2 separate regions of the Homo sapiens genome follow, and region 2 is linked to region 1. A link means that fine-mapping ties the variant in region 1 to the expression of a gene that starts in the linked region. Tissue or cell type: whole blood. Region 1 holds a variant in brackets; the other region holds the start of a gene. All regions are shown on one strand. Distances are from middle to middle.

Region 1 (8,104 bases):
CCCTGCCTGGCACTTATTAAGTACTTGTTGAATGAATGAAAAGATGAATAAATGAATAATTCAATGACACCATTTTGCCTTCTCTACAACATAGTCTTACATCTGGTCAACAAAAATTGGCCGAATGTCCAAATACTGCTAAAGGGGAACATAACTCTTTAAGATAATCTTCATCAAAGTAACAACAAATTGATGGTCAGGAAATGCCTTTTTCACCCCATCTCTCAGAGTCCACCAGGTGCAGGACACTCGGAGGAATGAGTATGAGGGGACAGGCCCAGAGGGTCCTCTTGCTCTCCTTCAGACACTCAGGTCCTGGGGTGACATGACAGAGCAGGGGACCTGCCCGCCCAGGTCCCTGTCTCTGTCACTGGGCACCATCCCCCATCTGATCACACAAACATCTGAAGCCAGAGGAAAGACTATAAAAAGAAAGCACCGGCATTGAGGGAAACATCCGGCGAGGAAGTGTGCTGAGTCGGAATTGTGTGGAGTCAACAGATTTTTCCTGTCTTGTAGCAAATCTCCCAGCTGCTGTCCTTGCTGCATCAGGGCCAATTCCAGCCCAAACCAAACCACCGAGGAAATAAGTACTTGGCCAAGCCAGGAGGCAGCAGGTAAGCAGCACGTAGCCCCCACAGGCATCTCAAGGCCCCTACTGGCCGCCCCTCATCACTGCAGCCTCTGTGAGTGAGGAAGGGTGAGCACAAGTCAGACACCGGTCCCCTGGGAGGGTGCAGCAGACAGCATCCATCCTCCCACCCTGGGAGTTTTGGTCGTGAGGTGACTGTATTGATAGTATTTACAGGACCTAGAAGTCCTGTAGGACTAACTAGCTGTATTGATAAATACCATCAATACAGTAGTCACCAAGGAAATGACCTCATCCCTGAGACTGTATTTGTCCCAATTACAGAGGTGCTGTAAATTGCCTTTATATCTGTAACTGTCACCTCTCTTTCTCTTGACCCATAAACATAATATGAAGGCTCCCCACTAAAGACATGGCTGTGTGGGCGTGTCCCTTTGGGCAATCCTAGAATTGAAGACACCTTAAGAGAACATCAAATCCAACTTCTTGTTACGGATGGAGAAACTGAGGCTCTGAGTAGCTTGATTCAAACCAGCTATGTAAACTTGAGCAAGTGAGATAATCTCTCAGGACCTTGGTTTCCCCATCTGTAAAACAGAACCCATCCCATTTCCCTTGTGGTAATGGGGTGAGGATTTCATAATCAATTGTATTCTAAGCCCATAGCCCAGCAACTGACACATAGTAGGTGCACACACAATGCTAACTCCTTTCCCCTTGAAGCAATTTTGCTAAAGGTCATGTAACAAGTGAGTGGCAAAGCTGGGACCAGCTCTCAGAGTTCCTGACTCCTGCATCAGTGCTCTTGCCCTGACAACTTACAGCTTCTTTTTACAAGGATGGTGAGAGGTAGTGTACTGCAGGGGTGAGTCCACACACTCCAGGGTCACACTGGCCTGGATTTGAAGTCTTGCTTTATCTCTTAATCTATGGGGACCTTGGGCAACCTGCAAAATCTTCACAAGTCTTGGTTTTCTCATTTGTACAATGGGTTGATTAAAGAGAACCCCTTACAGGTGTGGAAGGTTTGAATAAGACGGTGCATGGACCTTGCATCGCATAAGGCCTGACTCAGACTCACTGCTCAAAAACATTAGTTGTCATTATCACCCACACACTTGCCACCTCCCTGCTCATTTCTTCACAGCAGCAGAAATGGCTACAGGGGAACAAAACCAAACAAACAGAAGGACTCCTACGCCTTAAAACCCCTCAGGTAGCCTTCCCACCTGCTGGGATGAGGGTCCAGGCCTGTCCCCAAGTGTCTATGGGAGAGAGGGACCAGGATGGAGACAGCAGGAGACTGGGGTGCAGGTAGCAGATTCTGAGCAGCTTTAGGCTGCCTCACTCCGGCTGCACCCTCCATAGGTCTGCTCTTCTGGCCTAGGATTTGGCCTAAAGTAGGGAGGAAGGAATGTTCAGTCACTCATTCAGCACCCACTGTGTGCCACGCCCTGTTCTGAGCATCAGTAAGGGAGCAGGCAATGAGACAGGCAAAAATCCCAGCCTTCTCCTACGGACGGATGGACGGCTGCACTGGCTCCACTGAGGTTTACTAAACTCCTCCTGTGTGCCAGGCAATACCTAGACATGGGAGGGGCAACGAGAATGATATCAATGAACTCATCTTCACTTCTGTCTGCTGAGTGCTTACAATGTGCCAGGCTCTGTGGTAGGCCCCTCTACCTACAACGTCTCATTTTACCCTCACAACACCCTGTGAGGTGGGTGTTATTTATTACTCTCATTTTACAAATGAGGAAACAGAGTAAGAGGAGGGCGGGAATCACATGATCCAGGTTGGTCTGACTCTAGAGGCCAGGCTGTGTATCCAGTTCCCTATATGGGTAAATGAATGCAAACATGAATGGGCATGAATGAATGAATCTATATGGGAATGTCCCTACCCATGGACTGGTTGGTTTCTTTTGCAGGAGTGCAATCCCAGACACAGATGGCCCAAGTGCAAGGGCTGGAGGCCAGACAGACCCAGAACAGGAGGAAGGGCCTTTGGATCCTGAAGAGGACCTCTCTGTGAAGCAACTGCTAGAAGAAGAGCTGTCAAGTCTGCTGGACCCCAGCACAGGTAGGGACCCCCTGGAGTTACCTTGACCCTGCTTCTGCCCCATGGTGTCCAAGCTTCAGAGTTCTGCTCCAATCCACTGCAGGGAAAAGCCATTCTGTTTCTGTGGAGGAACATCAGCAACATTTAACTTCCCTTGCACCCTTGCAGCCTCAGAAAGTATTTTAAAGACCAGGTTCTACTTTGATTTTTTTTTTTTTTAGACAGGGTCTTGCTCTGTCACCCAGGCTGGAGTACAGTGGCATGATCACAGCATGATCACAGCTCACTGCAGCATTGACCTCCTGGGCTCAGGTGATCCTCCCACCTTAGCCTCCCAAGTAGCTGGGACTACAGGTGAGCACCACCACCACATCCCGCTAATTTTTGATTTTTTTTTTTTTTTGTAGGGACAGGGATTCACCTGTTGCCCAGGCTGGTCTCCAACTCCTGGGCTCAAGCAATCCACCCACCTCAGCCTCCCAAAGTGCTGGCATTAGAGGCATGAGCCACCTGTAATCAAAGCCAAAGTAGGCACCTGGCCTACGTTGATTATTCATTTTAAAAATCATTGTAAAAATAGTGAACATGCCAGGCACTGGGGAAGCATCTTATGTACATGATCTCATTTAAGCCTCCAACCAATCCCCTCAAGTAGATAATTATTACCTCGAATTTACAGATGAGCAAACCGAGGCTCAAAAAAATCAAGTAGCCTTCCCAGAGTCACCCAGCTCACCAGTGATTGAAGGGGAGCCAAACCCTGAGCCAGCCTGTCCTCTATGGACTTCTTACCACTCATTGGCGTTTGGTGTGTTTCAATACCCTTTCACCCTGGGAACCAGGTCAACTCTTTAATATGCTAACAATTGCAATGAAAACAAAAAGATTTTTTTGCAGAGAAATAATTAGCTTTGACAATAAATACATAATGTGAACTTGAATTCAAGAATCTGCTAGCGCCCCCCGCCCCTGCTGTGGACATTGGTCAGCCTCCTTTGGTAACACACCCCACGGCAGACCATCCCTGTGCTGTGGTTTTCTATCTATGTAGTTAACACTGTTTCTCATGTGCTCCATCTGGCTGCAGACACACTGAAGGTATGGCAGGGACTTCTCTTTCCTTGGTTAAAAAATATTGCTAATGTTTATTGGGCACTTTCTATGTGCTAGGCCCTGTTCTAAGTACCTCATGAGAAAATCTTATGAGATAGGGGCTATTCATTATCCCCATTTCATAAAGGAAAAATGTGAGGGTCAGGGGTGTTTCATAATTTGCCCAAGGTTGTGCAGCTCGTGGATGGTTATTAACACAGGCAGTGTGGCTGTAAATTTTAGAGCTGTGTTGTTCAATGAGGTAGTCACTAGCGACAAGTGGCTATTTAAATTTAAGTGAATTAAAATTAAATAAAATAAAATATTCAGTTCTGCCATACCAGCCACATTTCAAGTGCTCACTGGCTATGTATGGCTGGGGGATATAGCTTTGGATTCTATCTCTATTGGTCAGCTCTGGCTGGAACCTGTGGGGTCAGTTCCCACACGGTCCTGCTTGCCCACAGCACAAAGGGTACTGAACACAGGGGCACTGTAAGGAGTTGGGGGTAAGGAAAGAGGAGGGGCAGAAAAGCCTTTGCTGCTCACAGGCTGGACTGCCATGGGGAGACTGGGATCTTGCTGCTTCAGATCTGCTTCAGATTGCTTCAGATTTGCTGCTTCGGATTCAGATTGCCCCACTTGAGAATGCGACCATGATAATGTTTTCCTGGTTGCATGAACTCACTGAACCTCACAACAACTCCACAAGATACGTACTACTGTCTCACCACTTCCTAAGAGGAAACGGGAGCTTAGAGAGGTTAAGCCATTTTCCCAAGGTCACACACACTGCCCCTAAGCTGCAAAGCTGGGAAATCAAACCCAGGTTGGCCCAGTGCCCACCTGCAGCTAGAACTGGTGGGTGATGCTGGGTGAATTCAGCATCACTTTTCAGCTGTTCTCATACGCCCCAGTGATTTTCTCA[T/C]TCCAAGCTTCACTCCTTCTGAAGCTCTCTGACCCATGTAAAAGGAAAGGCCTGATTCTATAACACCAAGAGTTCCATCCAACCTTATAGCCTCAGAGTCTCAAGGAACTAAGGTTTGCATTTCCCAAATGTTGAAGGTTAATATTTATGTTCATTCAATCATTCAACAAACATTCACTAAGTCCCAGGCATGGGGCTAAACCCAAGGATCCAGTAGGGCAGGAGCCCAACAGTGTCTCACAAGCTGCACAGTCCAGAATGCAGGGCAGAGATTCATTTATCAGTACAATAAATGACTACACATACTTCGGAATAACTTGTTCAAATTACATAAGTAATATTTGGTTAATATAGAAAAACATAGATAAACAAAAAGAGAATGGATTGCTTCTGCCCAGAGGTAATTTCAGTTAACATTTTGACATATCTCCTTCCAGTCTTTCATTCTGTGCGCAGATTTTAAAGTAACTCACCTTAGGCAAACATTAGATAAATGTTAAGTAGATGTTGTGCTTTTTTTTTTTTTTTTAATTTTTTTAAGACACTGTTTCTTAACTCCAAGACTTATAATTTCTTTCCTCTGGCTTGGTCTCTACCATCAGGCCTGGGACTGGTTTCTTGAAACAGGATTTTCTGTTAAAGGGATGGGAAAAGAAGGGTGACTGTGGCATTGCAAATGTAGGGGCCAGTTTTTTGAATTCCCAGCCACCAGGCTGACTTGCCACCGCCACTACCCCAGTCCCTCTCCTGGGACAGCCCTTGGACAGGCAGCCCCTCCCCAGCCTGACTCTAGGCCAGGGTTCCAGCAGCTTGAGAGATGATGTTGAGGAGGATTTGAGGATCTGGGGCCAGGTGGTAACAGTGCAGACCTTAGGTAGCCTGGGAATTCCAGAGGCCCCAGCTGGGCACCTGGAGTATCCAGGGGGAGGAAGGGCCAGCTCTTCAGAGAGAGGGTAGGGTGGTGCCATCATAGGCTTCAAAGTCATCAGACCTGGCATCAAATTGAGGTTTGGTTGCCTAGCAGATGTGTGACTTAACTTCTTTCAGCTTCAGTTTCCTCATCCATCAAATGGGAATAATACTCTTGACCTCAAAGGTTTGTGAAGTTAAATGAAATAATTATGTAAATTGCTCATCACGTAAGTACCTAATATGTGGTCCCTATTATTATGGATGGGAACCAAAAAAGGCAGCGCTAAGTCAGGAACTCCAGCCTTGGCAAAGAAAAGGGATTTTCCCTCCATCCTCAGCTAGTGGAGCCCTGAGGGGAGAAGGCGCCCTGAGGGGTAAAAATCCTGGATGAAATATAGAAGACACTGAGACTGGAAACACACGCCCAGATTGGGAAATTCTTCAGAAATCGGCAAATTTCTACTTCTAGGCCTTCTCCTCCTCCTGCTGCTTCCCCACTTGGTTCGCCCGGGTGTGTCAGTCGACTGCTTTCCTACCCAGGGAGCTTCCCTGTCAGGGCCTCTTCCTTCCTGTCCCCGTCTGGCCACTCTGTCTGTCCCCTGCCATTTCCCTTCCCTCCTTTGTCCACTGCCCTTGCCCTGCTCATTGCCCCACCCTCACCCGCCTGGCCCTTCCCGGAGCCTGGCCCTCACTGTGTCCCCTCCTTCCCCCACAGGTCTGGCCCTGGACCGGCTGAGCGCCCCTGACCCGGCCTGGATGGCGAGACTCTCTTTGCCCCTCACCACCAACTACCGTGACAATGTGATCTCCCCGGATGCTGCAGCCACGGAGGAGCCAAGGACCTTCCAGACGTTCGGCAAGGCAGAGGCACCAGAGCTGAGCCCAACAGGCACGAGGCTGGCCAGCACCTTTGTCTCGGAGATGAGCTCACTGCTGGAGATGCTGCTGGAACAGCGCTCCAGCATGCCCGTGGAGGCCGCCTCCGAGGCGCTGCGGCGGCTCTCGGTCTGCGGGAGGACCCTCAGTTTAGACTTGGCCACCAGTGCAGCCTCAGGCATGAAAGTGCAAGGGGACCCAGGTGGAAAGACGGGGACTGAGGGCAAGAGCAGAGGCAGCAGCAGCAGCAGCAGGTGCCTGTGAACATACCTCAGACGCCTCTGGATCCAAGAACCAGGGGCCTGAGGATCTGTGGACAAGAGCTGGTTTCTAAAATCTTGTAACTCACTAGCTAGCGGCGGCCTGAGAACTTTAGGGTGACTGATGCTACCCCCACAGAGGAGGCAAGAGCCCCAGGACTAACAGCTGACTGACCAAAGCAGCCCCTTGTAAGCAGCTCTGAGTCTTTTGGAGGACAGGGACGGTTTGTGGCTGAGATAAGTGTTTCCTGGCAAAACATATGTGGAGCACAAAGGGTCAGTCCTCTGGCAGAACAGATGCCACGGAGTATCACAGGCAGGAAAGGGTGGCCTTCTTGGGTAGCAGGAGTCAGGGGGCTGTACCCTGGGGGTGCCAGGAAATGCTCTCTGACCTATCAATAAAGGAAAAGCAGTGATTCATTCTCCTGTTTGCACCTGTCAAGAGGGAGAAGGGAAGAGTAATAGAGTGGGGTTTATTTGTCATCCAATCCCTGGCAAGACCGTCACACTGGGCCTGGACAGGAGTGGGGCACCTTGGTACACAGTAACAGGTACACAAATAGCAGACATGTGTGCTCTTACCCCTGTTCCCCTATCACTATGTTACCAACTAATCTGCTTCTCAGCTGCAAAATTAGAGCTAAGAAAGCACAACTATTTATAAAGCATTTACATGAGCCAGGCACCAGGCTTTACAATAGGATTTAATTTGATTTTCCAACAATCCTGGGAGGGAGGTATTATTAACCCCATTTCACAGACACGGATATGGGGCTTGGAGAGGTCAAGTGGCTTTCCCAAGATCAAGCAGGGAGTAGAGCCAGAGCCAGGATTTGGACCCAGGCTGGGCCAACACCAAAACCCATGCCTTCAACCTTGACACCAGCCTGCCAACCAAAGACAGGAGAAGGGAAGGCCCTGGAGGTGAGCTGTTGGCAGCAGTGAACTTGCTCGAGCTCCCTCGGGAAACACTGTTGAAAGGAACATTTCCAAAGCCATCCAGGCCCGCACCTCTCTACATTCCCAAGCACAAGGCAAAAGGAACTTGGATCTGAACTGATGCAGACCCGTTCTTTCCCAACAAGTAGCTCTTCAAGTGCGGATGTCATCTTTCCCAACCCCATTTGCGGGTAAACCTTCCTCTGTCATTGCAGGTTCAGGCTTGTGAATCCCAGAGGACGCTGTGTGAACTGGGTCTATGAAATCGGCACTGACAGCAGCCAGCCTTCCAGGGGATGGGGGAGGGAAGAAACAGCAGATATTTTCCCAAGGTTCAGCTTTATAATTTTCTTGGAAATTTCCGAGCAGCCAATCAGCTAGCTTCTAAATAGTGTGGGTCTCTCCTGGACACTGCAGGCAAAAGTTCCTCTATCTGCTCC
Region 2 (8,104 bases), 25 kb after region 1:
AGGCGTGGTGGGGCACACCTGTAATCCCAACTACTCGGAGGTTGAGGCATGAAAATTGCTTGAACCTGGGAGGCAGAGGTTGCAGTGAGCCAGGATCGCACCACTGCGCTCCAGCCTAAAAAAAACACACAGGTTGACCCAGATACTTACTTGTTGCTCCAGGCACTGCATACAATAGCAAGTAAGACAGACATAATTTCTGCCCTCATGAAGTTTATATCTTGTGTTTAGAAAGACAAAACACAACTACAGAGAGAAATAGAGTAATTACTAGTGATGTTAAATGCCAAGAAGGAAACTAATCAGAGAGTTACACAGAGCATAAAAGGGGTCCTGACAAGACAAGGAGTCAGGGAAAGCCTGTCTGTGGGGGTGACGTGTGGGCTAAGGCCAGAAGAAAAGGCACCAGCATTGTGAAGAACAGAGACAAGTATCCATGGTACTGAGGACAGCTTGCGTGCAGACCCTTTCATATGAGCAGTAGTGACAGAGCACAGGGATGGCATTGGGACTTCTGGAATCCAGGCCCACTTCCTACTTCTCACTATGGGACAGCCCTAGGGCTCAGATCTTCTTTGGCAACATGGGAAAATGCTCCTCTCTTCAGGGTATGATATGGCCTTAGTCCACAGCTCCCCATAGAGGGGTAACCCTGTCATGGAGACATCCCAGGCTCAGCTCTGCTGATGACACCAATTTACAGATGAGAAAGCCAAGGGTCACACAGGTCAAGTCATTTGTCCAAAGTACACAGCACGAAAGCAGCAGGGATGAGCTGTGACAAACATGAGAGTGATGTGTGTGTCAACTTCATTCAGAAGATCTTATAAGCAGAACTTCCACCTGGAACATTGCCTGAAAAGCGAAGACTCTGCCCTATGAGACCTAGTGTTCACTAGTAAGAATCTGACCTTATAGATCAGGTTCAACAAATATTTTTGAGCAACTATTACGGGCTAGGCTCTGTATTTGATGCAGCAACCAAGCAGTAGAACATGAACTCCAGAGTTAAATCTGGCTCCTCCACTTAACAGGTATGAGACCCTACGCATGTTACCTAATATTTCAGAGCCTGAGATTCCTCAGCTGTAAAATGAAGGTGATATTTCCCTTGTAAGATTTTTGTAAGGATTACACAAGATAATGCATGTATAATACTTTACATTAATAAATAATGCTATAAGGCCGGGCGCGGTGGCTCACAGCTGTAATCCCAGCACTTTGGGAGGCCGCGGTGGGTGGGTCACGAGATCAGGAGTTCGAGACCATCCTGGCCAAAATGGTGAAACCCCGTCTCTACTAAAAACACAAAAATTATCCAGGCGTGGTGGCACGTGCCTGTAATCCCAGCTACTTGGGAGGCTGAAGCAGGAGAATTGCTTGAACCCGGGAGACGGAGGTTGCAGTGAGCCAAGATCATGCCGCTGCACTTCAGCCTGGGCGACAGAGAAAGACTCTGTCTCAGAAAAAAATAATAATTTAAAAATAAAAAAAATGAATAATAAAAAAAAGATGCAATGTATTATTATTTATTGTAAGATCCATGAAGGCAAGAATGTATCTATCTTGTTCTCTGCTATGTCCGTAGTGACTAGCAAAAATGCCTGGCCCAGACAAGGTGTTACATAAATGTTTACTGAATTAAATGAGGAAAACATACATGGCGGGGGTGTGGAAAGTGGCAATATCTCCTTGAATATGCTCCAATACCATGGGTTACTTGTTAAATGGACACAGTGATTCCCTAGCCCTTGTTCCAGGTTCGGCTGTATACCCATGAAGGATCATTCTCATCTACACTGAAGGTCAAGGACCAGGCTGGGGAAGCCTTACCCAAGATATGGCATCCCATAGGGTGTTCGGGGAGACACGGGAAGACATCCATTGGAAGGCATCCTTCCATCCATGGGACCTTGGACCCCCGCTCGTGCCTGGGCCATGGGGACCTGACCTAGATGATGAAATAAGAGGCTATCAAGTAGGGGCAAAGGGAGACCAGGGACTGGGTGCGGTGGCTCACACCTGTAATCCCAACAATTTGGGAGGCTGAGGTGGGTGGATCACGAGGTCAGGAGTTCAAGACCAGCCTGGTCAAGATGGTGAAACCCCATCTCTACTAAAAATATAAAAATTGGCTGGGTACAGTGGCTCACACTGTAATCCCAGCACTTTGGGAGGCTGAGGCGGGCAGATCATGAGATCAGGAGATCAAGACCATCCTGGCTAACATGGTGAAACCCCGTCTCTACTAAAAATACAAAAAAAATTAGCCAGGCGTGATGGTGCATGCCTGAAATCCCAGCTACTTGGGAGGCTGAGGCAGCAGAATCGCTTGAACCCAGGAGGCGGAGGTTTCAGTGAGCCAAGATCGCGCCACTGCACTCCAGCCTGGGCGACAGAGCGAGACTCTGTCTCAAAAAAAATAAAATAAAATAAAAATTAGCAGGGTGTGGTGACGGGTGCCTGTAATCCCAGCTACTCGGGAGGCTGAGGCAGAGAACTGCTTGAACCTGGGAGGCGGAGGTTGCAGTGAGCTGAGATTGCCCCACTGCACTCCAGCCTGGGCGACAGAATGAGACTCCATCTCAAAAAACAACAAAAAAAAAAAAATAAAAAAAAAGGGTGACTAGGGGAGGAAATGAGTGGTAAAATGGCAGTATCTTACCTGTCGAGGTTAGGCACAGGAACCAGCAAAGTGGAGGAGGTAGTCTGAGGCCCATCTGGGCTGGTGGACTTAGGAGTCACCCTCCAGAGGCTAGGTCCCAGTGTACGGGGAAGAGCTGTACAGAACAACCAAAACTCAGGCACCTCAACAAGAACCCAGGAATCACTGTCATCTGCCTCAGCAGAGGTTCTTAAACATGGATACACATGGGAATCTTTTATCTACTACAGATTCTAGGGTAGTACCCCAGAACCAATAAACTAAGATTTCTCAGGGTAGAGCATCCACGTTTTTTAAAAGCGCCCATGTGATTCTGCTGGTCTCCTGTGGATGCCAACCACTGTTCTAAGATGACCAAACGTTCATACATATACTCTCACTAATGTTTGGGGCTCTTTGACTCTAAACCTCTCCTCTCTTCACTGGCTATGCCTACTCCATTGGCCCCTAATCCTCTTTCATTCATTCAGTCCACCATCTCCTGCCATTGGACTCCTCCCCCTCCCAACAGTCCTACCAACTTCTTGGACTCCACCCTCTTCTAGCTAGGCCCATCCACATCTCAAATTCCAGCAGCCCCTGACTTCCCCGCCCTCTTTCAAGCCCCGCCTTCCTTGGCTCTAACCCGGCCCACGATCGCTTCGGCTGTTTCCTCGGGCCCGCCCCCACTCCAGTTCGGTCTTTGCGGCCCAGAGTGACGCTGGTTGCTTGGACGTCCCTTACCTCGGCCCAGGAGTCCCGGGAGGCGCCACATGTCGCTGCCAGCACCACAGAGAGCTCGCAGCCGAAAGCGCGAGACCAACCCTTGGGACAGCGGCTAGAAAGGCCGCCGCGATGCCCCGAGTGGCCGAGTACCCGAGGAAGCTCTGAGCTGGCCAATTAGAAGGGAGCCCGGCCGGAAAGACGGCGCTGCAGAGAGGAAGTGCAGGGCGGAGGCGTATTCGGGGCCAGCGGGGCGGTGACGTGCGGCAAGGGCATGGGGATGTGGGCCCAGGCTTCCGTGGGGGATGTCCTTGGCGTTCCCAAGCCGAGGCAGGGGACCGCAGGTGGCGAAGCGAGCCACCCGGAAGCGGGACCTTCGGGAAGTGGGGCTGGAGCGGCTTCAGGGAAGTAAGAGGACCTTGCAGACCGTGAGGCCGCGAACCAGGAAAGGCTTCTCCAGGCCCTAGGCTTGAGGAAGTGGGAGTAACCAGGCTCCATGGGCGGAGGAGAGGACCCCCGGGGTCCCACAAATGAAGCCAGTAGGCCGGGCTTCCGTCCAAGGCCACCTGCCTGGAGATGCCAGGCCAGGGCCCGACTGCGTAGGCGATGAGAAACCGCACAGGGCAAGGCTTTGATTCTGGGTTCTAGCTCCGGTCCAGCTTTATCTCACTGTGCAGCTTCATGCCAACCCCTTACCTTGTCGGGGCCCCAATACGCGCCAGATAGGGTCAAATGGAATGACTGGCCTGACAAGCTGAGATTCTTGGGTAGCTCCTTTCAAAATACCTGAGACACCACCCGCGCCCTATTAGAACCCTCGTCTTCAGACGTGGCAAAAGTTATGTATGTGTTTGTTCTTTTGTGGAAAAGAATAGTTCCGTCTGGTCCCGGTGGCTCACGCCTGTAATCCCAGCACTCTGGGAGGCCGAGGCGGGCGGATCACCTGAGGTCAGGAGTTTGAGACCAGCCTGGCCAACATGGTGAAACCCTGTCTCTACTAAAAATACAAAAATCAGTTGCGCGTGGTGGTGGGCGCCTGTAATCCTAGCTACTCTGGAGGCTGAGGCAGGAGAATTGCTTGAACACGGGAGACGGGAGGTTGCAGTGAGCCGAGATCGCGCCTGGGCGACAGAGTGAGACTCCATCTCAAAAAAAAAAGGAAAAAAAAATAGTTCCTTTCACCACATTTGAATCCGTGAAATAACGGAGCTTACATTCAAGTATAAGATGTTTAGATTTCCTCCCTATCCCCTTCCTCCAGGTATGTGACTTTAAGGTGAGTGGAAGTTGCTACCTGGGGTAAAAGTGTACTGGGGGCACCTACTTTTAGACCGAGGCATGTGGCTTGAAAGTTGTATTAATATGTTAGACAACTTTTTTTTTTCTTTTGAGACGGATTCTCTGTCGCCCAGGCTGGAGTGCAATGGTGTGATCTCGGCTCACTGCAACCTCTGCCTCCCAGGTTCAAGCGATTCTCTTGCCTCAGCCTCCCAAGTAGCTGAGATTACAGGCGCCTGCTACCACATCCTGCTAATTTTTGTATTTTTAGTAGAGACAGGGTTTCACCATGTTGGCCAGGTTGGTCTCGAACTCCTGGACCTCAGGTGATCCTCCTGCCTTGGCCTTCCAAAGTGCTGGGATTACAGGCTTGAGCCACCGTGCCTGGCCGTTAAAGAACTTTTGAGCCATATATCAGCCCGTTCTAGGATCTGAGAAGACAGCTGAGGAAAGAGCATTTGTGGCCTCCAGGAACACGGTCCAGTGGATTAGTAGTGGGCTTTGGAGTCCCACAAATCTGGGTTGGAATCACAGCTTGCTTACTTCGTAGGTATGTTATCTTGTGCAGGTTCCTTAACCACACTAAGTCTCAAGAGCTTCATCCGTAAAATAGGGAAAATACCTCATGCAATTGTTGTGAGGTTTAAATAAAATAATATGTTAAAAATGTTTAACTTGGTGTTTTGGGAATACCCTTCAAAAAATAAAAAATAAATAAATAAAAATGTTTAGCATAGTTCCTGGCACATAGTAAAAGCCCAGTAAGTGTAAGTTGCTATTAATTATATTAGTAGGGGAGGTAAGCAGGCAAGTGTAATAGGTTAGGTTCCCATAGAAGCATGAACAATGGATTGTGGGATCCCTTGGAAGGCTTCAGAAAAGTAGTTGCATTTGAGCGGGGCCTTTAAATGTGAATAAGAGCTTGCCAGGTGGAGAAGGAAGAAAGGCATTGCAAGCGGAGGAAACAATAAATAAAGGCCCAGAAGTTTGAATGTTGGACAACTATTCAGAAATAGCCTTGCTTCGGGATTTGGGACGGCAACCTTTCACATTCCTTGTGTTGCTGTCCCGAAAATAAAGTAACAAACAAGTATGCTGGTTTGGCTGTGTTCTTCCTCCTGCGTCTTTTGTACCCTCCTTCCTTTCAGACTATCCATAGTTTGTGTCATTTCTCAAGGTTCAGCCCAATCCCAGCTCTTCAGTGTAGACTCCTCAACTGTTTGAGCCCTCCCTGCTCCCTACTTTTCCCAATTCCTATAGCACTTAATTTCTTACTACACAGTTTAGCAGTAATTATATGCTGTCTTGGTATTTATCTCATTTGTGTAACTCTAGCCTTCCCAGTTCTCTCCTTTCAGGACAGGAATAGCATTTCCCTATTCCGTGTCCCACATAGGGCTTGACATAAATTGTCAGCCCAAAGAATATGTCCAAACAATCCCTGTTGACAGAACATCTTGTACTAATGATTATTACAGCCAAGGGTACCAGACCCCAGCCAGGGGATTTACTGATTTGAGTGGAAATGTATTCATTGCAGATACAAACATTCATTGAGGGCCCTCCCTGTTTGAAGCTAGTTGAAAAGTTTTGAAGGAGAGACTAGGACATCTGCCCCCATGTATAGAATGGCATTATGGCATCTCTTGTCCCCATAAACAGAAACATCAGACCACTTGTGTGAGGGTAGATGGCGAGGGTGGCTGGAGCCCACAGCAGATCACCTGTTGAGTGCAGCTCACGGGAGTGCTGTTGGTTGAATGGCAGCTGCCTCAACTGCCAGACCCCAAACTCTGTGGTTTTGGATTGTGGCTCAGTCCCTCTACACAGTCCCTCAAGTTGACTCAATCCTCCACAAAGGTAAACTGACACTGGGAACCTATTGCCTGCTGTCCAGTTAATCACCTTTCATGATGACTACACATGCCATTGTGTACTTTGTGTACTGTCACTACAGTGAGTATTCTAGATACTTGTTGCCTTCATTTTTGTAGGCATTCTTAATTTGCATTAATCAAATATATGACAGCTTATTTAGTGCTAAAGGATATGCTAAGTATATAACAATTTTAAAACATGGATGTGGGCAGGGCGCAGTGCCTCACGCCTGTAATCCCAGCTCTTTGGGAGGCCGAGGTGGGTGGTTCACGAGGCCAGGAGTTCAAGACCAGCCTGGCCAACATGGTGAAACCCCATCTCTACTAAAAAAAATACAAAAAATTAGGCGTGGTGGTGCGCATCTGTAATCCCAGCCATTTGGGAGGCTGAGGCAGAAGAATCACTTGAACCCAGGAGGCAGAGGTTGCAGTAAGCTAAGATCGCACCATTGCACTCCAGCCTGGGCGACAGAGCAAGACTCTGTCTTGAGGAAAAATTAAAACAAAACAAAACAAAACATGGATGTGGTCCTTGCCCTCACAGAAAATAGCCTAGGAGTGCAAACAAAGTCAGTAAGCAATTAAAATACAGAGTGGTGTTTTAGTTACTTATTGCAGCATAACAAACACCCCAAAATTGAGTGGCTTAAAACAATCATTATCTCTCACAGTTCTGCAAATTGACTGGGCTCAGCTGGGCAATTCTGCTGGTCTCACTTGGGGTCTCTCATGAGGTTGTAGTCAGATGGCAGTCATATGAAGACTCAAGTAGGGCATTGGAAAGGCTGGGCCTCTTTCTCCATGTAGTCTCAGGTCCCCTCTGCGCCACATGACCTCTCCAGCTGTGTCGCTGAACTTCTTACACAGTGGCTCAGAGCTTCCAAAAGTACACAAGTGGAAGCTGGCAGGAACTGGCATAGCATCACTTCTGCACTCTGTTGGTTAAAGCAACTCACAGGGTCAGCCCAGAATCAGTGTGGGAGGGGAAAACATAAGGTCACAAATACTGGGAAGTAGACTTTGGAGACAAGCAAGTGCTGTTGTGAAGAAAGTACAGAGTGCTATGGGAACACCCAGGGAAGGCCCATAACCTAGGCATGGAAGTCAGGAAGACTTCCTGGAAGCAGTGATGCTAAATTAACCTGAATGATGAGGCCTGGAAACTAACCAGGTGAAGAAGAGGAAAAGAAACCCAGTTCAGGCAGGGGACACAGCTGACTGATACAAAGTTCCAGAAAGGCAAAGAAAGCACAGTTTAAGATCACTGTAGCTGGAGCCGGGAGGGAGGCATGGAGTCATGGCGATGGGGTGGTGATAGGCCTTTAGTCTGGAGAGGTAAATAGCGCAAGGTCATAACGCCTTGTAAGCCCGTAAAACATTTGGACTCTGTCCTGAAGGCACGAGACATCTAGGAAGGGTTTTGGCAAGGGAGTGACCAGGCCAGAGGGATCCAAGAAAGGCTATTGGCTGCTGTATTAGTGGGGGTCAAGCCCTCATTTTCACCCTGTGCCTTCTAGGCCAGTGACCTCACCTTCAGCCCTGAGAAAGCTGAGTCATCACCTCAGCACTGATACTAGTACTA

What was found. PIP is the estimated chance that this variant, and not a neighbour inherited with it, causes the effect.
Region 2: DELE1 starts here. The variant in region 1 is fine-mapped to the expression of DELE1 in whole blood (TOPMed, PIP above 0.99).

The regions. Positions count from the first base shown.
Region 1 is chr5:141,944,006-141,952,109 of GRCh38, reverse strand. PCDH12 (protocadherin 12) reads left to right here. Exons shown (of 4, transcript NM_016580.4): 2 at 520-617; 3 at 2,527-2,678; 4 at 6,305-8,104. The coding sequence ends at 6,729. It also overlaps a transcript of RNF14 not described here. Among named protein-coding and RNA genes, the nearest start is that of PCDH12, 10 kb to the left of the region's middle. The variant T/C (reference allele first, on the strand shown) is at 4,678.
Region 2 is chr5:141,919,257-141,927,360 of GRCh38, reverse strand. DELE1 (DAP3 binding cell death enhancer 1) reads right to left here and starts at 3,490. Exons shown (of 12, transcript NM_014773.5): 1 at 3,389-3,490; 2 at 2,666-2,780; 3 at 1,834-1,951. The coding sequence starts at 3,419. RefSeq lists an enhancer at 3,096-3,609.